4 separate regions of the Homo sapiens genome follow, and all the other regions are linked to region 1. Evidence: fine-mapped expression QTL. A gene starts in region 1. Each other region holds a variant in brackets. All regions are shown on one strand. Distances are between the middles of the regions. Region 1 holds the start of RERE (arginine-glutamic acid dipeptide repeats). Region 2 overlaps RERE (arginine-glutamic acid dipeptide repeats). Region 3 holds the start of RERE-AS1 (RERE antisense RNA 1). Region 4 overlaps RERE (arginine-glutamic acid dipeptide repeats).

Region 1 (5,000 bases):
GCCACAGCTGGGTTTATCCCAGGTGGACTAGCCTATTCCCTGTCCAGTATTCAAAGGAGCCCCCTAAACAGAAAACCAGATCTTTTCTTATAACCCTTATTTACAAAAACAACATTGACAGCTCAATTGCCAGCAAACCTGACCATCAAACCATCACACCACTAAAAACATGCAAACATCATCTTGCTAAATATTAACCTCAATACAACCTTTATAATATTAATCAATAAAATCTATTTCTATCTAGAAAGACTCTGCTCACATTCACTACTAAGACTCAAGTGAACAAATCACTGTCCCCAACAAAATCAGGGTCAATGAGAAATACAAAAGCAATGAGAGCTGAACGTAAGGCCACAACATATAAAGAGGGATTTTATCTTTACATATACAAAAAAGAAAGAGCAGCAGAAACCACGGCTGCAAAAGGAATAAAGGGAGGCAGAGAGAAGAGAAGTCTCTGAACATGTTTTTGAGTGTCCTTTAGTTTCCAATGCACTCTTCTGCCTCACAAGGTTGCAAAAACGGCCAGGCATGAGATGGGTGGAAGAAAGCTGTAACAGAAAAGCACCCTCCCTTCCCCCATCTTCTCTCTTCTCTCCCAAAAAGAGCTGTGTTTGTCTGTGCAAACCTAGTCCCAAATATGGGAGAGAGAGAATGAATGTGTGTATGGAAGAACAATGAGCCCTCAGCTTGGTATTGTGTGTGTGTGTATGTGTGTGTGTGTGTGTGTATATGTGTGTCTGTCTGCCTCTGCCTCTTTTCCCTTCGACCTCAACAACAACAGGGAGAGCTGGAAGCCAGCTTTCCACCCATCCCAGGCCATCAAAATCAAAACTGGTTGATAATTTACAGTAGTATTAACTCAGCAAGCAAATCCATGGAACAAAATATCAACCCAAAGATGATTTTATTATTGTACAGATCCAGCTTCTCTCCCCTCCCCCAACAGACTGAGACTAAAAAGACCAGTGTACACTAGACAAAAAGGTCTCTCTTTAAATGGAAAGCAATTATGAAAACTGTTTCAAATCTTAGATGCATCAATTCCTGCTATATTAAAATGTCTATTTTGTAATTCACCAAGTTCACCCTCTTACTAGTTATCTTTTTTTGCGTTTAAAAATTCGCTGTGAAGAAGGCTATTTCACGATTCATACAAAACTACTTTCTAAATGTACCTTAAAAAAGCAACAGATACTGAAACATTTAAAGCACCCAGTTTCTCAAGGACCCATTTTACTTAAATCAATGTTTGAAGTCTGTAATCCAGAAAAATTGTAAGCAAACCTTGGAAAAGAGACAGAGGAAAATGACAATTCAACAATGAATCATTCTGTTTTCCTTTCAACAACTTCTCAAGCAACCAGTTTCAAAGGAAGCCTGCAACACTTTTCCCCCCTCCTAGCAGACACACATACACACGTGTATGTAAAACTACGAATCTTTCCATCATCTTAAAAATTAGTAATAAATAGAAGCCACCCTCCTTCAGAGAGCAGAACTAAAACAGGATAGTAAGAATTCTATTCTGCTGCAAGTGACTTTGGGTTTCATAATTTTCTAATCACATACAGCTGAGAACTAGAGATTGGGAGCACAAAGAGGAAATCTTCCCCCAATGAGAAAATGATACTTTAATAATAAAGTCCTCCCCCCAGCACCCCGAAATCCACAAACATTCAAGAAATTTACAGTTTCAGTCCTTGACTTCCTTCCCTTCCAGTTTCAGCCAATAATGTAGTCACATGAAATAGTTTAACCTCAAACAAGTAGAACAAGAGCATGAATAAGAGGCCAAGAGAGAGCAGGGGTCAGAAGGCACGCAGGAACGGTCACCTGGCCCGGACAGGACCAAAGAAGTGCCCTGCCCTCGCCCGACTCCCCTCGACTTCGGCTTCGACCCCAGCCTTTTCTTCCTGCCTCCCCCCGGGCGAGTGACTGCTTTCACGGCCGACCCTCTCTGACCACCAGGACGAGGGGCCAAAAAAGAAAGCACACGACCCGGCGCGGGCAAGTTGGACACTTACCTTCCCCTAAAGCGCTACACCATCAATAGTGAGGTGTTCGCGGCCCAGCTCCGGGGAAAGTGGCGGGGATGGGGCGGGAGGCCGCGCGGAGGCTGCGGGGCCGCGGGGCGCAGGGCCGAGAGGGGCGGCCCGCGGGGAGGCGACGCGGAGGGGCTGAGGGGGCTTCCCTGCCGTGACCTTTCCTGCGACTTGAACCTAGGCTCCCTCCTCCTCGGTCGGGCAGATCTTTCAGAAGCAGGAGCCCAGGATCATGTCTGGTTTTGTTTTCCGAGGGCGAGGGGGCTCCCTGAGGATGATGGTGATTTTTTTTTTTTTTTAATCCTCAACTAGGAGAGAAAATGAGGCAGAGACAATGTGGGGAGCGAGAGAGGGGAAAAGGACGGGGGAGGAGGCGGGGACCGAGGCCCAGCGGGGCGAGCGTCTCGGGGTGTGCGGGAGGCTGAGGAGGCTCCGGAGCGCGGAGGGTTGCTCGCGAGCGTCTGTGGGAACAGCGGCACCTCCGCGATGGTGGCGGAGCCGCGGCGGAGCTGCTGCACCGACCCGCCGCCCACTCCCCGCTCGGGCCCGGCCCACCTCGCAGTATCGCGCCCCTCCATTGGTACAGCGCGGTGTGACGCGGCCGGGGGCCCGGCCAATGGGAGGCGGAGGAGGCGGGATCTCTTTTTCCTTTTTTTTTTTTTTTTTTTTTTTTTTTTAATCTTTTTAATAAAATGAGCAGAGAAGAAGGCGGAGAGAGGCCGAGCCTTGACAACGCCGCGGCCCGGGGCTCGAGGGCTCGCGCTGCAGGCGGCGGCCAGAGGCGGTGGGCTGGGCTCCCGCCGCGGGCGCGTCTTTGTGAGAGTGCGAGGCCGGCCCTCCTCCGCCGCCCGCCGCGCTCCAGTACCGCCCCCCGCGCCCCCCGGGCTGGGCCGGGCTGGCGGCGCGGGCAGGTCCCGGGTGGGGTGGGGGGAAGTCCGGTTGATCTTGCTGTTACCCGGGTCTTAATTGGCCTTTTCAGTCATTAGGACGCGGATCCATGTTGCTGCGGGCTACAGAGTGGGTGTAAACCATTCTCATATGGACTCTTTCGAAATTCTGATGAGCGGCTTGTAATATTTTTCAAATAGTGTACATGACAAAAGATGAATTACAGAAAGAAAAATAAAAGTGATAAGTCGCACTGCTTATTTGAAAAGAATAAAAAGTGTCATGAAGGCATAAAGGAGAGACTGTACAGGTACAGAAGGGATTTTAGAAAGAGCAGTGTACAACTCTATAAGGTACGTGTGAAAAAAAATCTAAAAAGAGGAAAAGACCAAACATCACCTCTTTTTCTTTGAAGAATGAAGTATTGTGTCCCACTTCCCGAAAGCCTGATAATCACAGGGTCTATCATGCTGTAAAGGGAGTAGGGGCAGGCCAAATGATCATATTCTAGTTCATATAATTTATGGGATTGAGGGGTTTGGAAATTTCAATTATGATTAGCAGTTTTTGAAATGCACATCATGTTTATTGAGTTCTTTCACAGAGCCTGGCACGAATCCAGGGTGAATCATCAACCTATTGTTGGTTTGTTAATATTCTGTAAATGCTTATTGGTGTCCTTATACCATACACTCTTCCCGAAGGAGTTAAGGTCCGTATAAAATAAGGGGTAGAAAACGTAGCACAAAATAATTCACTCATCTGTTTCAAAAGAAGTGATAATTTTCTCCTTGGAAAATCTATTCAGATTATAATTTCCACATTGAATTATTCATTTTTTTTTTTTTTCTGAGAGGGAGTTTCACTCTTGTTGCCCAGGCTGGAGTGCAATGGCGCGATCTCGGCTCACCGCCACCTCCGCCTCCTCAGTTCAAGCGATTCTCCTGCCTCAGCTTCCCGAGTAGCTGAGATTACAGGCATGCGCCACCACACCCAGCTAATTTTGTATTTTTAGTAGAGATGGGGTTTCTCCATGTTGGTCAGGCTGGTCTCGAACTCCTGACCTCAGGTGATCCGCCCGCCTCAGCCTCCCAAAGTGCTGGAATTACAGGCGTGAGCCACCGCACCCGGCCCACATTCAATTATTCTTTAAAGAATAATTTGGACTAACAGATACTATTGGACCATGACCCAAGAGATCTTAAAAAAAAAAAAAAAAGCCATAGATCCTTGCCATCACATTTCTGAGTAACTTTCAGCAAGAAAAATCCTCTTTGCTGGAGTTATGAAATGGGGAAACTAGTTAATATCTCTTTATATATCTGATAATGTGAGAACTGAATTTTAAAACCTAATAAATTCAATAAACTGCTTCCAACATTCTAGATATGGATAGGACTATCTGACTTCCTGTTTGGAAATGATGAGGGATAAAGTATATCAGTTAGATGGCTTCACTTTCCATCAAAATCTCTATCTACAGGAGCATTCTTTCTTTTTTTTCTTTTTTTTTTTTTTGAGACAGAGTCTCGCTCTGTTGCCCAGGCTGGAGTGCAGTGGCACGATCTCAGCTCACTGCAACCTCCACCTCCTCGGTTGAAGCGATTCTCCTGCCTCAGCCTCCTGAGTAGCTGAAATTACAGGTGTGTGCCGCCACACCCAACTAACTTTTGTAATTTTAGTAGAGATGGAGGTTCACTATGTTGCCCAGGCTGGTCTCGAAACTTACAGGAGCATTATTTCTAATAAAGATTCAGCTCTGTGGTAGACAAATGGACAATGCACTGCCATCCAGCAGGGAGGAGAGAGGCTCTCCACGTTAGGAAATAACATTTACTATGGTATTAGGGATTGGCCGTCACTTTCATTTATCCATAAAAATGTAAATTTAGAAGTCCAGAAATGCCACATAGTTACAAAGCATAATATATGGTATCAGACCACAAAATTAGCAAACTAAACCCATTTAACTGTAACAGTCCCACGAAAGAATTGTGGTCCAGCCATAAAGCCGGAGAGTACTGGACCTCCTTCCAAGGATCTGAGAAGCTGATAATGCAGTAA
Region 2 (8,259 bases), 380 kb before region 1:
CAGTTAAGATTAGCTATAGAAACATAACACAAAGGGTGACTGAAGCGCCAGGTCTTTCAGTGTGTGAGGCCAGCAAGAGTCCAACAGCCCCTCAATGTCCCAGCTGACTCTTCTGATGATATGCTCAGAAATGTCTACAGAAGCTGAGCAGCTGCCAGCTCAACACACCCTGCCACACCTGCGCTATCGGTGGAATCAGAGAATGAGAAAGCTAGAAAGAAGCTTTAGAGAACTACGCTGGTTGAAACCCTCATATTACTGATGAGGACCATAAATCATTTAACTGAAATTAAACCAACAAATCAAACCACACATACCCACAAAATCTTTACATTTGTGACAAACTATATTTTCTAGAGGTGGCCACTCCAATACAGATTCCATCCCACATGCTCTAACAATGTGATAATGACACTCCTTCATTGACAGGTGGGTCTCTCTGTTCTCTCCTCCTGAGCCTGGGTAGACCTTTGTAACTGTCTTGACCAACAGAATGTGACAGAATGATACCAGGTGACTTCTAAGACTACATCATACAAAGCAACACAGCTTCTGCTGGGCTCTCCCTCTCTGGACACGTGTCTTTGAAGCCCTGAGCTGCCAGATTAAACAGTCCGGCTTGCCTAAAGTCACCACGCTGGAGAGACCATCAGGGATGGAGAGGTGCTACAGAAACCCTAGCTATTCTAGTCCCCAGCCATTTGAGTCTTCCTAGCCCAGACTCATAAGTGAAGAAACCTTCAAGATGATTCCAATACCTCCTATCACTTGACTGCAACCTCGTGAAAGCCTAAGCCAGACCTGCACGGTGGAGCCATTCCTAAATTCTGGTCCCACAGAAACTGTGAAAGATAATAAATGATCATCATTGCTTTACATTGGGCTAATTTTTATTATCAGGGGTAACGTGTTACATAGCGATAGGCAACTAATACAAGATTCATTACTAAAACCACTAAAAACTTTAACCTGTTAGTCACTATTAATTTAAGCAAACAAATAAGCAATCTTCCAATGATGCTTCCCCAATTTGCATGCCTCTCTATAACCTTACTCTGCCTTCATTTTAAGGCCTAGCTCTTATCACCATATGTGATATGATTAGATAACACGATATAGGCTACGTTACTGAATATATGAGGAAAGGGCCTTTGTTTTGTTCACTATTATATCCCCAGCACCTAGAACAGCACTTGACAACATATAGCAGGTGCTTGACAACCACTGGTTCAGTACAAGAATGTATCTGGAGATGATTGGGCTTAGTGTTCCTCCAAGGCTATTTGACCTCTCATCACCTGTTCTCCAGTTTGACTCAACGTCTCTTAATATATATTCACTGCACTGTTAAGTTTCTAACTCTCTAACTACTACTGACAAAACCATTAGATGTTCTTCGTTCAAACCCACTAGAGGAACTACACCATCCCCTCCGTGATGCCAGCTCAGCATCCAGAGTAGAGCCAGTGATTTCCTTTGTCAACACACCTGCATGCCAAAAACCCTTCCCAGGAGGTCTCAAATATCAAATAAAAGTTACTCCATTTTTCATTCAAAGACCATGTGCCCAATGGGAAAATGACCTCATGTTGTGGTTTAAACAGCAACTGCACCCACTAGCACAGCCCATTGAGCTATCCTATATATACATCTCTGTCAGTGCCCCTCTGGGTCTAGATAATTACACTGAGTACACTGAAGTCCTTTCATTATTGCAGGCCCAACAAAAAGTACTGCCACTGGGTGAATATCAGAAAGCATGCATCAATGCACTTTCAAGTCAAATGAGAACTGGCTAGTTAAGCAGCAGCATTAACAGATGTAGAGATTGTGCCAGCCAAATGCCTCTTGCCAATTATGGCCACACAGCTACGCCCAAATTAAAAATAACCCAACACGGCCAGGTGCACTGGCTCATGCCTGTAATCCCAGCACTTTGGGAGGCTGAGGCAGGCAGATCACGAGGTCAGGAGTTTGAGACCAGCCTGGTCAACATGGTGAAACCCCAACTCTACTAAAAATACAAAAATTAGCCAGGCGTGGTGGCGTGTGCCTGTGATCTCAGCTCCTTGGGAGGCTGAGGCAGGAGAATTGCTTGAACCCGGGAGACAGAGGTTGCAATGAGCTGAGATTGTGCCACTGCACTCCAACCTGGGCGACAGAGCGAGACTCAATCTCAAATAAATAAATAAAAAATAAATAAAATAACCCAACACTCATAACAGAATCCAAATGGGCATGGGAGGCTCCTTCTCTCCCTACAATATCACCCTACAGTCGCTACATAAATGCCCCTGTAAAGTGGCTCCTAAGTTATGTCATTAAAATGTTCACCTTTCCTTGGCAAAGTAGATCTCAACACAGGAGGAAAGAGAAATAAGCTAAAAAAAGAAATGTGGATTGTCTAGAAGTTACAAGGGAACAAAAAAGTAGAAATCCTCCGTGAGAGGATTTTGCAAAAACTGTAATTAAAGGAATCTAGACCAGTGGTTGCCCGATAGAAATATAAGCCAAAAATGTAAGTTTTACTCTTCTAGTAACCATACTTTAAAAAGAAACAGGTAAAATTAATTTAAATGTTTTATTTAACTAAAAAGATCAAAAATATTATCATTTCAACATGTAATCAATATAAAAGTTAGTAATGAAATATTTTACATTCTTTTTCTTCCTGCTCAGTCTTTGAAATCAGTGTGTATTTTACACTGACCGTGCATCTACACTTGGGCCAGCACATTGCAGATGCTCAACAGCCACAAGAGACCAGTGGTTACCACATTGGAAAGCACAGGTCTAGAATAATCCTAACTTCTTTTTTTGTAAAATACTGAAACATCCAAAGCACTCCAAGTTTTCTATTAGGGAGGCAAAATAACTATACTGTTAGAATCATGGGCAACGATATCATAAATTCCTAAAATAAAACCACATAGGGCCGTTATTTCAAATTACATAAAACTTGTCTTCTAGAAGAATTCGACCAAATGCCAAAGTTCTTAAGATCTGCCCCACTTCCCAAACAAGGGAAACTGAAGACCTCGACCAGCACCAGGGCCTTCCGTCAGCTCCTGATACAGGAGGGGCTCCTGGATTTTGTTTCCCCTTCTTGACAATACAACATGGGACTGGGTTCCTCATTTGACTCGGTTCATTTAAAGAATGATCTCAAAGAAGAAAGGAAAATCAATGACCCCTTTAGGAAATGTAGTCCAGGGTGGGGGTGGAGGAAGCATTTCAATGACAAAAGCCAAACCTCAGTCATAATGCAGATCCCTGTCTAACAGGTGATCATTGTTTTTTTTTTCTATTACAGGCACTCTGGTCTCCCGCCTACCCCATGCAGGATGGCTATCCCCATGCAGAATGGCTGTGACTTTCAAGAGAGTCCCCCAAGGGAGGGTCCCAAGATCAGGGGCTGGTAATGGGCCCCACCACAAGGCTACGCTGCTGGCTTTTGTTTGGAACAATAGCGCTCCCATGATACCTCACTCTTGCTGACAATATTGGTAATACGGGAGCATGAACACAGCTGTGTGTAAATTACACACACAAACAGATTAGATCTGTATATTTATAAGGAATACAAACATACTAATAGCTCATTTACATACACAGCTGGATACAATGGGCTGCATGCAGAGGGGAGTTTGAGTTCCAAAGTATTTCTCTAAAATTTTACAAAAAGAAATGCTCAGATTACTGCTAACCCAGGCTGAGACTTCTGCTCCCCCCACCCCCATGCAGTATGTCCCCCGAAATAGAGTCCTTTTCATCCTCGTTTGTGATATTTGAGATGCTATGAAGGAGAAACCTCAACAAGTGCTGTTAGATTTCACTTTTATTATTATTTATTATTATTTTTAGAGACAGGGTCTTGCTCTGCCACCTAGGCTACAGTGGTATGATCACAGTTCACTGTAACGTGGAGCTTCCGGGCTCAAATGATCCTCCTGGCTCGGCCTCCCAAGTAGGTCAGACTACAGGTATGTGTCAGTTACCATGCCCAGCTAATTTTAAAAATATTTTTTTGTAGAGACGGGGTTCTCACTATGTTGCCCAGGCTTGGTCTTGAACTCTTGATTTCAAGCAATCCTGCTGCCTCAGCCTCCCAAAGAGTTGGGATTA[T/TG]GGCATGAGCCACTGTGCCCAGCCAGATCTCACTCCTGTAGGAAAAAAATCAATATAGGATAATTTTCAGTTAAAAAGATGTATATACATACGAAGAGGGAGACCTACTAAAACATCTGTTACAACAGCATATAGTAAGGCAGAATCTTTGCATTTTCAAAATGTTTTCATAAACTTTATTTGTTAGAGCAATTTCAGGTTCACAGCAAAACGGAACAGAAGGTATAGGGATTTCCCATATAGATGGGTCTCTGGATTTTTCAGCTAATTTTGAAAAATAGGGAAAAGAGCAATCAGCATTTTGTGCTCACTACAGTAAACCAGGAACACAGGCATCAGGAGAGCTGGGCTCTGATTCAAAGGCCTGATTCTAGCAAGGCCTCACAGTTTACTTCCGGCTAGCCATGAACACTCTCTGCGCCTGAGGTTTTCGTGGAAAGACAGCATCACAAGTACTCAAATGTAGCGTTTAAAAGTACTAACTTTTAAAATGTTGAATGTTCCAGTAAAACAGTTAAAGAAAAAAAAAGGTAATAATCCAACTAAGTAAAAATATTAACTTATACATATCTGGATAGATGATAAGCTCATTACAGGCCCTAATTTTATTATTTAAAATGTTTACAACAAAACTCTCTAATTGATATTCTCCCTCTCTCTCTCTTTTTGCCTTGATATGGTTTCTATAAACTCTTGGTTTAAAAAAGAAAAAAGGTCCATTTCTGAGGCTTGGGTTTACTGTACTTACAGTTCCACCAGTAAATCGTCTCCCAGTCTGGGCTGGAGAAGCGCTGGCCACGGTTTGATTGCTCCAGCCCCAGGTTGCCAGGCAACCCACACAAGGGGGAAGTCTGAGAACCGCTGACAGATAGCCAAGTGGCTGAAACAACAGACTTCTCTCTGTCAAAAATGTGTTTGAGAGAGCCACTTGCCCACCTCTGCTCTCTGCTAAACACTACATGATTGTAAAATCAAAATCAAAAGGCCACTGTAATAAAAACACACTTCCTGCTCAATTACTAATTGTTCTAAAGCTGTGGGGAGGCCCAGATCCTACAGTGTATGGCAACAGAAATGCGATACTGTAAATGAGATAAAGCCAGCAGCATGCAAGAAACCTGATCTAAATGCATCTCCGTAGCTTCAAGTCAGGAGAGCTGGTGTGTGGAGGAATCAACTGCCTAAGAAAACACCAGGAAGAAAATAATGAATGTCAAGATGTTAAAGAAACAAACCAATCAATAACTACGAAGCTAGAGGTCAAGACTACTTAGTAATAAAACCAAGAACATTCTCCATTGTTTTGAAACACAATCTGGAGGCAATGAAAGTTTTCTCCCTCAGATGGAAAGGAGGAGCAAGAAAGGTCAATGACCCTTGGGAACCACACCCCCTGGCGGTTCCAGGTGGATTCCCTGATACTTGACTGTAAATGGGATTACAGGAAATAGTAGCATCCTTAGGATAATGCAGGACAATAACAGGTCTGAGAGTCTAATGCAACATTTAAAATACCTATGGTGTGAGCTGGGCACAGTGGCTCACGCCTGTAATCCCAGCACTTTGGGAGGCCGAGGTGGGTGGATCACCTGAGGTCAAAAGTTTGAGACCAGCCTGGCCAACACAGTGAAACCCCGTCTACACTAAAAATACAAAAAATTAGCTGGGCATGGTGGCAAACGCCTGTAATCCCAGCTACTGGGGAGGCTGAGGCAGGAGAATTGCTTCAACCCGGGAGGCAGAGGTTGCAGTGAGCTGAGATCGCGCCATTACACTCCAGCCTGGGCAACAAGAGTGAAACTCCCTCTCAAACAAACAAAAACAAAATATCTATGGTGCATGTACCAAGCCAGTAACATTGTGCCCAACACCAACTCTATGCAGCATCCTTCCATGAAACCACTGTATTGAAACTGTCATCTTGGACTCTGGAAACTATTTGTAGTATGTGGAAGGGGCCAGCACTGAGTGCACAGTTCTTTATCTCTTCTGTGCCATGGACCCTTTGGCAGTCTGGTAAAGCCTGACTCCTTCTAAAAATGGTTTATGGCCAGGCACGGCTCATGCCTGTAATCCTAGCACTTTGGGAGGCCGAGGCAGGCGGACATGAGGTTAGGAGATCGAGACCATCCTGGCCAATATGGTGAAACCCTGTCTCTACTAAAAATACAAACAATTAGCTGGGCGTGGTGGCGCATGCCTGTAATCCCAGCTACTCAGGAGGCTGAGGCAGGAGAATCACTTGAACCAGGGAGTCAGAGGTCGCAGTAAGCCGAGATCATGCCACTGAACTCCAGCCTGGCGACAGAGCGAGACTCCACCTAAAAAAAAAAAAAAAAAGGCTGGGCACGGTGGCTCCTGTCTGTAATCCCAGCACTTTGGGAGGCCGAGGCTGGCGGATCACCTAACGTCGAGTTTGAGACTAGCCTGGCCAACATGGTGAAACCTCGTCTCTACTAAAAATACAAAAAAAAAAAAAAATTAGCTGGGCATGGTGGTACATGCCTGTAGTCCCACCTACTTGGGGAGGCTGAGGCAGGAGAATCGCTTGAACCCAGGAGGCGGAAGTTGCAGTGAACCAAGACCATGCCACTGCACTCCAGCCTCGGTGACAGAGGGAGACTCCATCTCAAAAAAAAAAAATAGAAAGTATGCCAGAGTAATATAACTGCTCTATGAACACACTAAATAACAAGAGCTAGCAGAGGGTTTTCTTTAGCTCATGCAGGTTTTTTGTTTTTCGGGGGGGTGGGGGGGCTGTTTTGCTTTATTATGTGACCTCAGATGATAAACCCTTGGAGGGCAAGGACAGCAAGTTTTTCATCATTCAATTTCCAGTGCAATATGCAGCCCGGTTTCCTGCCCCAAGCTCCTAAGCTAGCCCTCGTCACACCACTAGCCCAGCTCCTATGGGGGCGTGGGTTTCCTTGACTCTCCCAGTGCCCAGAAGTGGGCCTGGCATATAAGATGTGTAAGACCATAGTCCGCAAAATGGGATGTATGGACACAAAAGACATTTTTTTCCTATGTTCTCTTTCCAACAATCCATCAGCCTGAGAAGGCACACGCTCCTGTGAGGGGATGCAGCCTCTCTTCTTCTATCCCCACCACTGCCCCCCTCTCACTTCACAAAGGCAGCCTCCTCTCCCCCGCTCCCATCTGGAAGGCTACCAGGCAGCACTGCCCCAGGGGCACTGAACAAGGGGACAATTTAAAACATTGACACTGGTGCTGACACAGTGCCTAGCTCTGAGGTCAGGATGAGAAAGACTCCACAAGTCAGACATTTTCTGATTCTCTGCTTTCAACAAAACACAAGGAGGTCCTAGTGGAAGTGTCATCTGATAGATTGCGGAAAGTCATATCTGACGACAAATTATACTTTTGGCATTATTATGGAAAGAATTCAAATAACTGAGTGACACTGTAACAAAACTATCATTCCCATCTACTTACTCACATAAACAAGGTTTCTGGGCACTTACGTGTTTAAAAAAACCATACAATTTATTTCCAATAAATGTTAAGCAAAAATGAAAATTATATCAACATTTACATTATTTCGTTGTTTTCATCAACTGTGCTCTAATAATTATAATTTGAAAAAACATTTCTTCTATACTTAAGAGCTTTATTATTAAAGGAAATAACCATATGCCCGATTTCAATACACACACTTTTTGTTGCAGGGAAGTACTAAAGGTCAATCGGACACTGGACTTTCAAACATAAAATGTATCATCTTAGTATAAAGTCCCTGGGGAAGTAGAATGGAAATAAAAATTAAAGGGGGAAAAGGATAAGATGCAACATTGGACTGCTTTTAAAAAATGAACTTGTCGGGCATGGTGGCTCACACCTGTAATCCCATCACTTTGGGAGGCTTAGGTGGGCAGATTACCTGAGGTCAGGAGTTCAAGACCAGCCTGGCCACCATGGCGAAATCCTGTCTCTACTAAACATACAAAAATTAGCCAGGCATAGTGGCGCACGCCTGTAATCCCAGCTACTCAGGAGGCTGAAGCAGAATTGCTGGAACCTGGGAAGCAGACGTTGCACAGTGGACCAAGATGGTGCCGCCACTGCAGTCCAGCCCAAGTGACAGAGCAAGACTCCATCTTAAAAAAAAAAAAA
Region 3 (8,259 bases), 390 kb before region 1:
TCATTTCCAAGTATTTCTATGCACTCTTTACAAACATTATCTCATTTAAATTCTCAAAATAATCAAAAGGGTAGGAATTATCACCCCATTTTACAAACGCAGAAATTAAAGGACAGAGGGGATGAATAATCTGCCTAAGGTTCCAGAGCAAGTAAGTAGCAGAGAAGGCAAGAATCATCACTTCGTTCTCAGGCACTGCAGCAAGTAACGACGTACAGGCATTTTATAACGACCACAGCACCTACACAATTCTCATGCAGAGAAACACCATTTTACAGAAAATAACTTCCCAGTGTTGTCAAGATTTGACCTGAGCTTTCCAATGAACAGCTCAAGGCAGACTGCACAATTAAAAAGAGATCATCAAGTACTATAGTTACCAGTAAGGCCAAGAATAGAACACAGGTCTGCTGACCCTTGCACCAATGCCCAATCAGGCATGTTCTTTTGGATGCTGACACCCTTCTCAAGTTCCAAGTCACTTGCGAATAACAAAGAAATGAGTTAATAATTCTGGTAGACAGAAGAAAATGTAAGCCAGGCATGGTAGCGTGCACCTGTAATCCCAGCTATTCAGGGGAGGATCACTTGAGCCCAGGAGTTTGAGACCAGCCAGGGCAACAGAGTTAGATCTTGTCTCATTAAAAAAGAGAGAGAGAGAAAGAGAGAGAGAATGTGAAAAGTATCTATATTAGAGGGATTTGCTATCAAAAGGGGCATGACTATAAGAATTCTACCCAGCAAGTTCTGAATCAACAACACTGGTACATGCAAATCTCATCTTCTGCAGCAAAAAGTAAAAAATGACCTCTGCCCTCCCCTCCCTGTGGGCTGTGAATGATTAGCTTGGCTATGTTGATAACTAGAGAAAATAAGAAAACACAAGATGAGTGCCTCTCCCAGCTCATTATAATACTTACAGATTTACCCTACTACCAAACTCCTCCAGTGCAATGCAAAAGACAGCAAGGACACTATGAATATTTAGCAAATGTCAGGCATAATAAATCCTCCATTGCTGCAAACAACTCTCTCATTAGTTCCAATGATGGTGACTGATGAAGACTTTGGAAATAGGAAAACTGCTGGGTGCTAGAGAAGGGAGAAGAGCTACAGCGTGGGAAACTGTGAAGGCGGAGGAGTGATGGGGAAAGGTCTCAGCAAAGAGGCTAGTGGAAAAGACAACCAGAGAACTAGCTCAAAAGGTTGGTGTACTGAGAATGCCTCTGAAGGAGAAAAAAGGCTATTTATTTACGGAGTCACACATCATCAATAAGAAGGGAAAATCAAGAGCAAAAAGAAAAACATAGTAGAAGAACTTAACTAGGTTAAAGGTTACTCACATCTGCTTCCACTACGGAGATAAAACACTAAGTAAAATTACCGAGCATTTCCAAATGCCAGATGGTAGAATTTAGATTTAATGCTTAATCTTCCAATTATGAATTTATTTTTTAAAACTGAAAGATAAAATAATTGTCAAGATAGTTCTGTATCAAATTCTTCATGGTTTGCAACTTTTAGCAGAGCAGAGACAGAGAACTTGAGAGGCTACAATCTGAGCGATCAGGAGAAATCTACTCACTGATCTCTTTTTTACTCAGCCAAACCAAACTTCCTACACTCGGGCAAAGGCATTTTAATTTTTAATCATATCAAACTTCAAGTCACTGAAATCCCCAGAAAACTTAAAATATGTATCTCAATATTCCATATTAAATAACTCTACCCTGTTCTGGGAAGGGTAAGAAATAAGTTGATTATATAGATTGGCATCATAATACATCTTAGTTTAATGTTCATAAACAGGTTTCTCTCTCTCTGTTTTTTACCATTCTCAATATGATCCATCCTAGCATATGAGATGCGTAATACTTAAATTTAATTGTCATTGACTGATGCAAATCATCCATTTATATATACAAGACTATACTTGAAATCACAAAACCCTTCTTCCCCATGAGTTATCACTGTCCTTGAGGTACTATACAGTAAGTGTCCAGAAAAACAGCTCATTTTTAAAAAGACAGAATTAAACAAGAGGAAATCAGTAAACAACATCCAATTAAAAAATTAAGCCAAAAAACCCAAATTATCCGCATACTTTTATAGTAGATATTCTTGCATCCATCTCCCACCTCCACTCCCTAAAAAAGCAGCTCAATGTCTAGGCAGATTAAACATGGATCACTCCTCCCAAAGTCCTGAAGAGTGTTTCTGGTTAATGAGTCCTCCCTTCGCCTTCAGACAGTGGAGTGGCTGCTCCAACTCCATCCCATCTGCCCTATCCCGTGGCCTAGCCAGAGGGAAGACTCTCTCCCCATCTGCCTCTACACCACCAGGGAAGGAGATGAGGAGGGAGGCAACCACAGGGAAATGAGAATGAATCCCTTCCCCGCATTCTCTTCATATAATTTCACTCTGTATTTTCCTCAGCAAATCCTTCTACCTCACGTTTATCGGGCACATTTGTCAGCTCTGACCCCCAGCTTTGTGAAATACTAAGTAGTTTTTTGTAAAGCTCCATTTAAGCAATTTATAAGATCCCCTTGTACATCTGTCCAGTGGAAAGTGCAAACTCTCAGGGATAGAATATTAAAGAGTTAAAACTCCTCTTCAAAACAGAGCAACATTGAAAAATGGAAAAAATCCCCCAGAACTCAAAGTATAATAAGCCACAAACCTCTGGTTTGGTTGATGATTTCTGCCAATTACCAAATTCAAACTAGTGATAAAATGCTATTTCCTATTCCAGCCACTATGTTTAAAATTTGATGTTAACTCTCCAACAATCCTTCCCCCACAACTAACCCTCTGTTCCCAAAGACCTTTCTGTTCTCAGAGTTACAACAGAAGTCTATGTTCTCCAGGCGGATAAGCATAATCTGTCACTTTACTATCTAAAAATTATGAACTCAAATTAAAAGTCAAGGGAGTAAAACGGAGAGAATTCTGGAGGCCAGCCCGAGTCTGAGCACAGCGCAGGGTTAAAGGAAACCATTTCATAAGATCAAATGTGGAGAGGCAGCAGGAGCAAAGAGGAAAAAATCAAGTTACATAAAGTCCAATTGTACTCACTGTTTCCTTATTGGGAAGCAGCTCCTTTCTAATTCTGAAGAAGTTCTTCCCGTACTGCCTGAGTCCCTTAACGAAGCGTTTCTGTGATAAAAAGAAACAAATGGGATGTAAAAACCAAAAACAAAACAGGATGTCAGCAAAGCAAAGATATCTACAATCAGCAGAATAACAACCACAAAAAAAGTCTCGGCTAGGGAATACTGCCGAGGCTCGGAGAGTATGTCAGCAGCTCAGCTGGGACCCACTGGCCAGGGCAGGCCCCAGCTACCTTCATCAGAACCCCAATCCCACCCACCACGCAGGGCAGCGCGTTTAAGAGAAGGACGTCCTGCGTCTGAGGCTAAGAAGCAATCTGTCCCCCTCTTCCACCAGGCACACATTCTGGTGCACGAAGGTATAAATATGCTCCATGTTTTAATAAAACACAACTGCTTTCCCACCTGAGAACCAAGCTTCCCAGAAGTGTCGAGCAGAAAGGGGAAACAGAACCAAACCCGGTGACTCTTCTCCAGAAGGGAACCCTAGGGGGTTAAAAGGCCGCTTTCCTTAATCCAAAGAATTTGCCAGGAGGCACCGGAAGGCACCAGTATCACAGAAGCCCACCGGGAACACGAAAGCCAGCGGGCCTGCCCCACCGTCCGTCATTAAAAGCCACTCCGAGACACCAGAGAATAACCAGCACCCCTTCCGCCCTCCCGACGCCACTCGCCGCCCCCATCCATTTTCGCAGCAGACTCGTCCCTAACCCCAGCCCGGAGACTTTCACTTTGTCCCATGCCTCCCGAGCACCCCTCCCCGCCCCGGTGGGGGCAGCTCCTGGCTCCGAGCCCCCACCTCGGGGC[T/TCC]CCCAGCCTGGTCCCGGGCGGCCGACCCCAGCAGCCACAGGTAAGCGCCCGGGGTCCGGGGCGGCAAGAGGCCGTCGCCTGTCACTGGGCTCCGGCTCCACAAAGCGCAGGGCGGAGGCGGCCGCGGGTGGCTCGGCGTGTGACCGCGGCGGGGCCGCGCGGCGCGGGGCCCGGGGGGCGCGGGGCTGGGGCCGCCGCTGACGGGGGAGGAGGCAGGAGCGCGGCGCGCAGAGCCCGGCGCGGCCGCGGGCGGCTGCAAAAGGCGGCCTGGATTGCCGCCGCCCTCCTGTCCGCCAGCCGGGGCCCCGCGCCCCGGCCCCGGCCCCGCCCCCGGCCCGACCCCCACCCCGAGGCCGGAGCCTCCAGGGCACCCGGCGCTGGAATCTGTGTCCTCCTTCCGGACAGGAGAACATCAAGGCGGTAAAGCACAGAAACTTCCTCCCTACCGCAGCAAGCGTGGGGAGAGGGCGCCCACAGGGCTGGGGCCCTTCCCAGGCTGCTGGGTCTCCAGCCCACGTTCCGGATGGACGAAGTCGGCTGCGCCCCGGCCGCACGCCCTCCGCCCCAACCCCGCCTCAGCTGCGAAACGGGGGGCTGGCCCCGACGCCCCCCGCGGTCCCTTCCGGCCCGCGATTGTGGGCGGCCTCTCCCTGGCGGCCCAGGCATTAGCCTGCACTTCCCCGGCCGCCGCTTCACAACTAAATCACCGCGGAAGCTTCCCAGCCAATAAATCACCTGCCCACCGGGCAGAGGGTCCCTCCCACTCCCTGTGTTTGAGACCCGCCAGGCGGATTCAGTGAAGGGCCAGACTTAGCCTTTTAAGACCAGTCTGCAACCTCCTACTCCAGTAGTGGAGGCTTTGCGTTTTTGAATTTCACCCTTGCTGAGATATGACTCATCATTGTCAATTTTCAATATAATTCATACAGTTCGAAGGGAAAATCTCTCAAGGCACAAGAAAGCAGCAAGCTCTCCTCTAGTGTGAGGAGTGACCTTTGTTACTTGACAAAAGTATCGTTTATATGATCAACAGGCATCCTACGCTGTGTGCACACAGCATATCACCGGGAGAGACGGCACGGAAAGATGGCCCTGCCCTCAAGGAGCTGCAGTCTGCCCAGGAAGGCAGACAGGTAAACAAACCAGTCCTAGGGCCTGCAAGAAAAGCAGCAGAGGAACAAAGGGTGGTGGGTGAAGCTAGGAAGAGGAAGCAACTTACTCTGCTTGCTGATGTCTTAGAGGAAGTGACAAGGAAGAGTGTGAGCCTGCCAGGTGGGCTCCAGCAGGGCTTCCAGCAGAAGTCAGCCAGGAAAAGGCACAGGGAACATTCTGGGAACTGCAAGGAGGACAGGGTGTGCAGAATGGAGTGCCAGCAGATAAGACGAAAGAGGCAGGCAAGGATCCGGTTGCAGAGAGCCCTTCAGGCCGCACGGAAGAGTTCCTAATTGTAGGCTGGCAGAAAGGCTGAAGCTGGAGCTTTCCATGAAAAGACTGGATGAGGACTGTGCCAGTGGCAGTGTGGCCTAAGTGTAGATTAGGGACAGACCAGTTAAAGAGGCTGCTGACACAGTTCAGGTATGAGATGAGGACCTCAACTACTGGCACACTCCACCTCAGTAATCAGAATTCCTGCCGCTTAATCCATTCTTCAAGTATTCAGGTATTTACTGAGCACCTAGCTGAGAGGGGTCTAGGAAGATAATAAAGGTTGCCATGGACCTTTACTGAACTGTGATTCATTTTTGCACGTAAGATAAGTATGTGTGAAGTCATTACAGAACATTCTGAGATGTCATCTGGCCAAGCATAAAGAAGTGAGGTGCAGCTCATCAGTGCAGCAAGGGACCCAAGAAGGCTAGACTGCAGTGGTCTGTAGTAGTTCAGAATGCCTTCGCCAAGGCAGTGACATCAGCGAGATCACAAGGGGTGGGCAACTATTGCAGGGGTGGGAGGTGGCTTGGTGACCGGGCCCTCCGTGAAGGTCAGAGGTGGAGAATGGGAGGTGGGTTACAGGGGACAGTCTACACAGACTTGGGGCGGGCAATCTGGAGTGAGCCAGGCTGTGGAACGCCAGGACCATGCAATCGGAACGTGGGCTTGATACCAAGTGACATCTAACAGGTCCAGTAAAAGAGGCCTACACAATAAAGGCAGCATGTGAGAAAGGCTGACTCTGGAACATCAGGGTAAGGTGGCAGAGTTGGACAAACAAATTCAGATCCTGTTTCTTCCATTTATTGTGATGCAATCCTTTGAACATCATCCATTCAACCAATAGTTACTAAGTACCTACTATATGCCAGGAGCCTCATATATATTAATTCGAAATCTTTACAACCTAAGAAGAAGTACAATTATTATCCCCATTTTACAGACAAGGAAGCTGAGGCACAGATAGGTAACTAGATCAACTCCTCAGAGACAAAGCCAGAATTCAAACTTAAGCCCCCTCAAATCCTCAGAGCCACACTCTGTAAAATGCAGGCAGGCGTCTACAGTGGTAACTATTTTCTGTTACCATTTTCTATGAGTCTGTACTTTCCTCTTCTCGGGTCCAATGTCAAATCATAAAGTCCTCAGTATTCTTCCTAAGAAGTGTCTTTCAGCCGGGCGCGGTGGCTCATGCCTGTAATCCTAGCACTTTGGGAGGCTGAGGCGGGCAGACCACAAGGCCAGGAGATCGAGACCATCCTGGCTAACACAGTGAAACCCCGTCTCTACTAAAAATACAAAAAATTAGCTGGGCATGGTGGTGGGCGCCTGTAGTCCCAGCTACTGGGGAGGCTGAGGCAGGAGAATGGCGTCAACCCGGGAGGCGCAGCTTGCAGTGAGCCGAAATTGCGCCACTGCACTCCAGCCTGGGCGACAGAGACTCTGTCTCAAAAAAAAAAAAAAAAAAAGTGTCTTTCAACGCCCTCCTTTCCTGCTCATGCTAGTGGCAGTCCCAGGCCAGACCTTTATCTCTCTTTCCTAATAACTAGGCTATTAACCATCTCCCCCATCCAGCCATTTAAAAGCCTCTGCCAAGGAATTTTTCCCAACTATAGATTTCATCCTGAGTCCCACTTTATCTGGCCCTTAGCCCCTACCTAAGAACAGCATGGTGGTCTCTGCAGGACAGTGTTTACACTCCTTAGCCCTGAATTCAAGGCCCTCCAGGATCCTGGCCCTGCCCACCTTTCCAGCCAGATGTCCAGTAATGCCAACTGGCCCACACTGGGGGACCTCTGTCTCAACTCCAGAATCTGGGTAAGGCATCTCCACGTTCACCTCAAAATCTCTCCTACTCCCAAATGAAACCAGATGTCCAGTTACTCTCTCATTAGTTTATTTATTTGTATAAGGCCTGCTTACCCAAAAAGTCCATAAACTCTTAAAATAATTACATCTTACACCTAGTGCCTCCATATAACACTAGGCAGTTGATGCTCACCACATTTTTTGTCTCCTTTAAAAATTATTTATTTATTAACGATGAGGTCTCACTATATTGCCCAGGCTGGTCTCAAACTCCTGGCCTCAAGCAATCCTCCCGCTTTGACCTCCCAAAGTGTTGAGATTACAGGTGTGAGTCACCGCACCCGGACAAGTGAAACCAACCATGAGATGCTGAGGGCCTGGGCTAGGGTGGTCACAGTGGAAATGGACTGTTGAAAGCCAGAAGGTCCATTTTGAACTCTCCTAACAGAGCTGACCTCTTGCTCCATGATGCCAAACTCTCCTAGTTTTGCTCATACCACTTGGCCTAATTCTCTACTCAACCTCTAAATGCTGGAGTCTCCCCAAAGCTTTGTCCTAGGGCTTTCTGCTATATATATCCTCTCCCCATATGATCTCCACTGTTCCCTTGGCTCTAAATATCTTTCGAGATTGTCACTGGTATTTCTAAGACTAAATCTATGGTCCAAGTCCACTGGGAACACTCAACTTGAACGTTTCACAGGTATCTCAAACTAATTACTTCCAGAAATAGGAATTTGACATCTGGTGGTGAACACAGACCTACCACAGCTGTCAATGTATGTCAATATAATGCTATCAAGAGCAAAAGCACCCTTGGCCCCACTTTAAAAAAAAAAAAAAAAAAAAAAGGAAGTAAAAGCTTCATGTGGCCTGTACTGTTACTTCTCTATGGAAAGCCACAAGGCCTCAAAACCAGCAAAACATCTGCTTCTCAGAGACCAGCCTTTAGCTTGTGGTTTACCAGAAATGTAGAGTAGCCCTGAAAATCGAAACAAAGACGACCACTCACAGTAGTCAATGATTGGAAGGGGTCACACGTGAAAGAGACTTCTGTTGCGGCTGTCTCCTTTCCCTCTATAAATTCATCGCTCTTCAA
Region 4 (8,259 bases), 470 kb before region 1:
GCCTCAGTAGTGAGGTGCCGTTTGAGCAGTGTCCTGATGAAGCCAGGGAGTGATCTCTGAAGTGAGCACTTGCTTGACAGGCTCGAGGGAGCATAGGCACCAAGATGCTCAGATTGTAAAATGCCCCAAAAGTTGAAATCTCAAAGAGTTTGGAGCTGATGTGGCTGGCCAGCGCCCATCCTGCCTTTTGACTCCACAGGCAGGGACTAGGGGCTGGAGGGCGAGGTTCGGGTCATTCTTCCCCCTCCATCCGCCAAGGGTTCATTCCACAGATGGACACCATGTGCCTGCTGCGTGCAGGCGTCGCTGGGCCTGGGTCTGCCCGGGCTGTGCCCACTGCCTCCCAGTGCCCCTTTGTGGATCTGGCAAAGCTCTCGTGAGTGTGGCAGTCCCTCGCCATCTGGCCTCTGACCATCTTCGTCACCTGACGCTGGAAGCTCACCAAGGCCCCTTCTCAGAGGCCTGGGAGGGCTCCTCCACGCATGGTGATTAATGGCCATGAGGGGTCACGGCCGGGTCCCTGTTGTCGCCAAGCTGGGCCTGGTCTGGGATTGTGCAGCCCCCAGTTCCCTCACTGCATGGGCCCTGTGTTCTGGGGACATATAAGACATCCCTGACCACAAATCCACAACAAACAACAGGGGTTCTGGGGCCTGTTGCCAGCCTTGGGGAGTCTGGCGTTCATGACAGTGTCTTATCATCTTGCTGTGACCACTTAGGGCCAGTCAGAAAGGCTACCTCCCCACCTGGGCCACAGCCTCCCTCCCAACCACGGCCTCCCCACCTTGGTTATGATTTTCCCACCTGAGCCCCGGCCTCCCCCATGGGCCATAGCCTTCCTCAGTGTCACTGCCTGCTGCCTCCTGGAGCCCCACCACTCCTCTCTGCGCCCCTGCTGGACTCCTGGCCTCCTGTCTACCCTCACATCCATCTTCCACCCTGAAGCTGGGGGGCTGTAAACACGGGCCTGAGCCCATCCCCTCTTCTAGTCTTCCATGACACCTACCCTGGCTCCCCAGACCCTAAGGAATCAGGTAGAAATTCCTTCCACCAAACAGAGCCCAGCCCATCTTCCCGAGCCAGCCACCCGCCACGTTGCCAGCCCCCTGTACTACAGCCACAGAACCTTTGTGGGCCACAATCGGTTCCTGTGTTTAGGATCTTCCTGCAGGCCAAGTCCACCTCTTCTCTGCCCATCAATATCTGATTCATCCATGTAGACCTGTCTGAAATGCCACTTCCTCCGTGCAGTCCACCCTGCTTGGAGCCAGTGATTCTTTCCCTGTGCTTTCATGTGATGCTGCTTTACCCTTCATGGTCATGAGCTCAGTGAAGCGGGTCTCACGGTCCCTGATACACATGTAGCTGAAGCACAGAGAGGTTTAGTGGCTTTTCAAAGTCACACCGCTCCTTTGAGCCTCTGTAGACTCAGGCCCTGTTAGTCCCATGCTTTTCCTGGAACTGCAGACTTACCCTCCCCACATTTATGTTGTTTGGAAGAGCTTCAGACTTCCTAGAAAATGTGGTGTTGGGTGGCTGTCCTCTGGTCTGGGCTGTCTTTGCCCAGAACTGGTCAAAATGAAGAATAAGGGGCTTCCCGCTTACTCTTGGCTTGTCAAATCTTAGGCCCTCTTCCTAGAACTTTCTAACAAAACACAGATTGCTTCTACACGTGGGAATCGTCCCTGTCAGCCTCTCTTTTCTGAGAACCTGCCCTGCCTCCCGAACTGTGGGAGTACTGCCCTCTGGCCGGGTCCGAAAAGCTGCCCTTGACTTCCAGGTCTATTCCTAGCAGATGGCAGTGGGAGCAGCCACCAGCTCCAAACCACGAGGCCTAGGACTCACTGAGAGCCACATTCGTTTGACTTTCACATCTCAGAGAGGATTTCTCTCTACTTAAAAATCAAGCTGTGGGCCGGGCGCAGTGGCTCACGCCTGTAATCCCAGCACTTTGGGAGGCCGAGGCGGGTGGATCACGAGGCCAGGAGATTGAGACCATCCTGGCTAACACGGTGAAACCCTGTCTCTACTAAAAATACAAAAAATTAGCTGGGCATGGTGGTGGGCGCCTGTAGTCCCAGCTACTTGGGAGGCTGAGGCAGGAGAATCGCTTGAACCTGGGCGGCAGAGGTTGCAGTGGGCTGAGATTGCACCACTGCACTCCAGCCTGGGTGACAGAGCGAGACTCTGTCTCAAAAAAAAAAAAAAAAAAAGAATCAAGCTGTGATGATGAGGGTAGTCACCGCTGCTTGCTGTTTGTGAAGTCCTCACTACACACGAGGCCACGTGTGAATGAATCTTAATCCATTCTCCGACCTTGCTGGGAAAGAGGTATCATTCCCCCATTTGACAGATCTGGATCCTGAGGCAAGCACACCCAGTACCTGGCCCACGTCACAACAGGGTGGAGTTTGAGCCCGGGGAGTCTGAGTCCAGCCTCATGCCGCTGAGTGCCTTAGGAGCGCTGTGAGCCGGCCAAGCCCCTGAGGGCGGGCAGCTTCCTGCCCGTCTGTCTCCTGAACACTGTGCTGCTGCAGGGAGGCCTTCTCGCTCCCCAGGGCTCGCTCCCCAGGGAGCTCAGCTTGGAGGGAGCTTCTCATCCTATTCAGAGGCGAGGGGACAGCGGGAGAAGGCCTCTTGCTTTATCGATCAGCGCTCTGTGAGACTCATGCTTCTCAGGCCACTCAAAACAAAAACCACATCACCAAGATCTGAAGCCACTCCTGACTTTCCTGTCAGCAAACTTGGAAAGTGGCTCCCATTCCTTGATGCCACTCAGAAACGAAACACACCTAACAGCCATCGAGCACTGCCCACAGCACTTAGCATGGAAACTGAACGTCATCAAAGGAATTGCCCTAGAGGTCATCGCCTCCCTGGGTTTTGTGTTTCTTCCTCCCTAGGCTGTTGGGCTAACCCTGGACCATTCCCTGGGGAACCGGGACAGGGTAAGGTGGCATTCCCTGGAGAACCGGGAACCGGGACCCGGTAAGGTGGCATTCCTACACTCACCAGGCTGGGCTACAGGTTTCTGGGGGAACAGGGATGATTTCCCTGGAATATGCAAGAACTGACAATTGCCTGGCCCCCCCGCAGTCGGGAGGTCCTGGCCCTCCCTGCACCTGCTCAGAGTGTGTCTGCAGAATCCACTCGGGTGCGTGGGGCGTGACGTATCATCCTCAGCGGGGAGCGGGTGGAGGGCATCCGTAGAGGGAAGGAGCAGGTGTCTGGAACTGGGGGTGGGTACTTTTGTGGCACACAAGGACCCCCAGCAGCTGCTCAGGGGGCTTGTCGGGGAGTGGGGGCGCGGTTAGTTATGGGAGTCATGATTCTTGGAAGTCATCCGCTGCTGATGCCATCCTGGGATTCTCTTCCACACAAGGAACATTGAGTTCCTACCGGGTACCTCCCAAGCCTTGGGGGATGCAGCGGAGAACAGAAGAAACCTCCTGTTCTCTAGACAAGGCCTTTGCCCTCATTCTCACAGCCGTGCCCGCCCTGCCTGCCCACAGCCATCAGCCTCACCTGCCCACACTCAGCCCCCTCTTCCCAGCCATCTCCACAACCCGCTCTGCTGAGGCCTGTCCAGTTGCCTGATCTCTGACCCGCCTGTCCGGCCGCCTGCCTCGAGGAAACGTCGGATCTCTTACACAATGCTCGCTGTCAAACCCTCCAGCCTTCCCCACCATCGCCGGGGGCCTTGACTTGCCCCTACACCAGAGCTGCAGGTCTTGTGGCAGCCGCGGGCCCAGGGCAAGCACCTGGGCCTTGTAACGACTGCCACCTGGTGGCCAGGATGGGGATGGACTCTGTTCGACGGCTGCCCAGCAGCAGGGTCCAAGGGGATTGGGGGGTGGGGGGGACTGGGTGGTCACATGCCCAGAAAACAGTGGGATAGGCAAGAAATGGCCTCAGGAATCCTCTCTGGGACAACTAAAAGGTGCTCTAAAAGCCTGTTTTTAATTTGCTCCAATGGATACTCAAACCCTAGGGGTTCATCAGAAGCTGATCCCCCAAGCCCCATTCCCCACTTCTACGATGGTGTCAACCAGGGTTGGAGTCAGAGGGACTGCAGGGCCCACACGGCAGGCACAGTCAAGAGAATGTGAAGGGAGGGTCTCCAGGTGCCCAGCAGAGGCGTCCCTGGGAAGCCTTCCGAAGTCAACCCAAAAGGTCCTTCTATCTGGTCCTTCACACCCACTTTCCAATAGCACATCTGGACTGG[C/A]AGCAAGGAACCTTGCCCTGCAGGGCCCGTCCGTCCGTCCATCCGTCCGTCCGTCCATCCATCCATCCATCCATCCATCCATCCAGCAGGGTCCATCCACCCATCCATCCATCCCTCCAATATCTGCAGAGCAAGTGCCTTCCACAAACTTGGTTCATTAAGAAGGGGCCCGGGTGCCTGTGCATACACAGAACTGGGCTGTGGGAGATACAGGGGGACTTCTGCAGCCTGGGTCCCTGAGGTGTCAAAAGGGAACAATGACCACTCTTGACAAAGACAGCCACTAGAGAAGCCACCTTGAGTTGGAGAAGCAGAGAACCAGGTCCCAGAACTTGAGTTGCCAAGGATTCCAGGGCAGCTAGGAACCCAGTGGGGATTCAGGTAAAGGACCTCAGATACCGAGACTGTCAAAGGCCGACAATGCCGCCTCCGAGAGGACCGGGTGAGGCATCTGCAGCTGGAGCTCATCAGGGGCTGAGCAGGAGGCTGTTCCTGGCCCCCTGGGGATCCACGATGGATGCCAGCTCCAGCCAGGCCCCGCCTTCTAACGGGAGGTCCGGGAACCTTATGAACCAGAAAGGGCTTGCTTTATCCTGCAGCCCGTATCAGTCCAACCGGATGGCCAAATGTGCGGCTGCATCCCTTGGCTGGCTCATCTGGCAGATCCTCCTTAGGAGGAGGTAGGGAGGCCAAGGACCCCGCTGTTCCTCGGTCTCCATTGGGCAGCAGGAAGGGCCCCAGGGGTCCAGTGCAGGACAGACTTTTCCACTGGTTTTGGGGCCTGGCAGCTTCATCCCCAGTATCTGGGTAGCTGGTTCTGATTTCAAAGCTCTGAGTTCAGATATGTACCCAAGCCTTCTGGGCTGGTCAGGTGAGGCTGATGGTGGTCACTGAAGTCTGTGCTGGTGCCCAGTCACACTGCCCTGGGTCTCACCATGTGGTCAGGCTGGGGCTAGTGAGGGCTCTTAGCTCAGATGACGGCTCCCCACATCTCAGCTTCCACACAGAAGGGCTCTGGCCCTGACCCCCCCCCCCCCCGCCCCCCGCCACCACTCATCAGCTGATCACATCCACAATTGTATAGCTCACCAGTGCTGATTTTTGAGGGCCTGGAAGCTTGCAATCTCGTGTGTGTGTGGGAGGCCACCGCTGATCTCTCCACGGTGCATCCTTGCCCTTCAGATGCGTGATCTTGACTTACCCAGGTGAGGCTTAAGTGAGGTCTCTCCCTCCCTAGACTTACCATGGACAATTATCAACAATGCAGCCACACACCCAGCTGCACACCTACACTGTGCTGAGGCCCTGGGACTTACACCATGCCCTGCAAAGTGCCATCTTCCTAGCCCACCTGCAGTGGAACCAGCGGGGCTGCTGAGCCACCATGCTCAAGCTGAGGATGCGTTTCCAGGAACAAAGGGGCAGAGGGCACGTGGGACGTCGTTGGGGCAGCAAGAGGCGAGGGCCTGGCTTTGGGGTGCTGCTGGAGGACAGCACCATTTCCCTCCGCCCCGTCCACCCAGCAGATGTCTGGTTAGCATTCCCGGCCCTCTTCCTCACATGGGTGCGTGGCAGAGTGGTGACAATGGCCACAGCTGTTCATGCCTGAGAAGCTGCCCAGCTCTGATGAGGCCTTGTTGTAGCATGAACCTACTATCTCCTCAAGACGCTTGGATCCAACCATTTAACCACACTGAAATCTACACTTCACAGACCTGTACCTGTTAAACCCTGCAGCTTCCTAAGGGGCACAGTCCCGGAGACCCACCAAGACAGCGCCTGGATTCCAGCCTCTCCCAGCCACCCCAGTGCCATCCTCTCACCCAAGACCTGGACTGAGAGCCACCTGGGGCTCCTGTGGCCAGCCTGCGGGCCCATCCCTGTGCCCTGGTCAGCCACGCTGCTGAGCAGGACCCCTGCTGTTCGCCTCAAGGGCCGTCATCGTGTGCGCCACTCGGGTCTTTGCATGGCGAAGCTTTCTCAGGTCCTGAGCGAGGCAGTGCCTGGTGCCTGCTGCTCCCCAAGTCTTTACCACGTGGCGGACCCTGCCTGGTTTGAGGACAGTTTACCAACAGTCAGCTTTCTGGGCTGCTCTTGCCCCATGTCTGCAAACACCTAGAAACTGATGGCCCTATCCCAGATGACAAAGGGTGGACACACATTTCCGGGGACAATCCTGAGGCTCCAGGAAAATGCCCTCAACAGGTTCTGAAGCCACAGCGCAATTCCAACGCCTGCCCCCCTGTGGCCATGTCCACACCCTGCAGGCTGCCTGCAGCCCCTTTGGAGGGTTAGAGCCCCTTAGGCCTGGGATGCATCCTCCACCTGGAGTGCAGCTCTAGAGCTGGGTGGCTGGGGGTGGGGTGTGGGGGCACTGGTAGGCCACGGGGAGGCAGATGGGGGCCAGGCAGGAGGCCGCTAGGATGGGGTGGTTCCGATGTGTCTCCTGAGCAGGCAGGGTGCCACATGCCCATACATGCTGGTAACGCCCACGGATTAGAGGTGTGGGGTGAATGGCAAGGGGTGGGGGAAGATGCTCTTAGTCCCAATGCCAGTGCCTGCTTAGGGCCCATCCCGCTGCTTGGGGAGCCTCCAAAGAAAGACAGCACCCTCACCAGGGAAAGCCTCTTCCCAGACAGAGGATGTTTCTGGAAGCCACTCTGGGATGCAAACAGGGTCCCGAGCAGCAGGGAACAGCCGACTCTCCCTCTGTCCCTTCCCCACCTGGGGTAACAGCCAGGATCCCCGCCCACTCTCCAGGAATGAGACAGTGCACGGGAGACACCCAAGGGTTGTAGTGTAGCTTGGTTTTATTTATGTCCACAAATATTTCAAAAAAATTACAAAATACTCAAATGGAGAGAACACAGAAGTCACGATTTCTGGGTGTCTACTGTTTACACTGTGTTATCTCATGGCAAACTACTCATATATACATTTAGCTTCAAGATATATAGAAACGTAGCAAATCCGAGTGTGCACGCTGCCTCTGCCGCAGTGGAGTGAAGCTCAACCTCGAGGACACCGAACAAGATACGGACACACACAGAGGAGCCAAACCAAACCCCGAACAAAGGGAGGAAAATCCGAAGGAAACCGAGTGGTTGGGCTTCAAAGACACCATGAAGGTCAGGGCCTCCTAAACAAACTGTAGTTTATCTGGTGAGGGTTTCGGGTCGAGGGTTTTTTAGATGGAAGAATCTCAGCGCTTCGCCTTGGGATATGGGGAGAAAAGCAAAGCTAACAAGAATGCCTTCGGACGGCTTTCAAGCACAGACCTCAGAGGACTCGACTCTTCTTTGGAAAAATGGATGCCAAAGGAGGAGATAAAGAAGGTTTAACTGAATGGTAGATGTTGTGTTCTACCAAAAAGAAAGAAAAACCAGAAGCCGAGAAGGTGGGGGCCTGGATGCAGGAGTCTGGGAGCCCAGCAGGAAGAGGCCTCGCTCAGAGCCACGGGAACAAGCCTGCCATGAGGGCCTGTCCCCACCCCAGAAGGAAACGAATGCCTTCAAGCCAATGTGGCCTGAAGTCCCACGACAAAAGGTTCATGTCAGCTTTGCCTCCCTGTGAACAAACTAAAGTTAAGGCAGAAATGGAATGAGAGAAAAATGAAAGAAAAAAAACTAGAAACATTTTCAACAGACAAAACAAGCCTATCCCAACTGAAACCAAACACGGTTTTTAAGAGAAACTGGAAATGTCGCTATTTGACGCCAGAACCTGAATTTGAGCCAGTAGCTGCTGGTTTCTAGATCAAACTATCAGCATCTCTTCCTGCTCCCTCTGCGGCCTGGGTCCTGGATGGACTTTGTGTCCGCCGACCCAGTGTGGTCTCTGTCCTACAATTCTTGGGATGGGACCAGCACAATGGCAGAAGAGACCTCCAGTGTCTGAGAGAAAAGGATCGGAAGAGGCCACGTCCTGGCAGGAAGCAGGGCCGACAGAGGGCAGACACCCCAGAACACCCGCCCTCAGCCTGGGAGAAAGTGCGTTACGGCTGCAGCCTGGAAACGAGGGCAGGCTCTCTCCAG

The links. PIP is the estimated chance that this variant, and not a neighbour inherited with it, causes the effect.
Region 2: its variant is fine-mapped to the expression of RERE in whole blood (INTERVAL, PIP above 0.99).
Region 3: its variant is fine-mapped to the expression of RERE in whole blood (TOPMed, PIP above 0.99).
Region 4: its variant is fine-mapped to the expression of RERE in whole blood (INTERVAL, PIP 0.96).

The regions. Positions count from the first base shown.
Region 1 is chr1:8,815,130-8,820,129 of GRCh38, forward strand. RERE (arginine-glutamic acid dipeptide repeats) reads right to left here and starts at 2,511. Exons shown (of 23, transcript NM_001042681.2): 1 at 2,031-2,511. RefSeq lists silencers at 2,109-2,168, 2,419-2,718, 2,819-3,048 and an enhancer at 2,461-2,755.
Region 2 is chr1:8,434,141-8,442,399 of GRCh38, forward strand. All of the region lies in intron 11 of RERE (arginine-glutamic acid dipeptide repeats), which reads right to left. RERE-AS1 (RERE antisense RNA 1) reads left to right here. Exons shown (of 4, transcript NR_125999.1): 4 at 493-876. Among named protein-coding and RNA genes, the nearest start is that of RERE-AS1, 14 kb to the left of the region's middle. The variant T/TG (reference allele first, on the strand shown) is at 4,126.
Region 3 is chr1:8,419,649-8,427,907 of GRCh38, forward strand. RERE (arginine-glutamic acid dipeptide repeats) reads right to left here. Exons shown (of 23, transcript NM_001042681.2): 12 at 3,079-3,159. RERE-AS1 (RERE antisense RNA 1) reads left to right here and starts at 4,997. Exons shown (of 4, transcript NR_125999.1): 1 at 4,997-5,053. RefSeq lists silencers at 3,797-4,136, 4,447-4,586 and an enhancer at 8,115-8,259. The variant T/TCC (reference allele first, on the strand shown) is at 3,921.
Region 4 is chr1:8,345,387-8,353,645 of GRCh38, forward strand. It overlaps RERE (arginine-glutamic acid dipeptide repeats), which reads right to left. Exons shown (of 23, transcript NM_001042681.2): 23 at 7,018-8,259. Among named protein-coding and RNA genes, the nearest start is that of SLC45A1, 31 kb to the left of the region's middle. RefSeq lists an enhancer at 4,477-5,297. The variant C/A (reference allele first, on the strand shown) is at 4,226.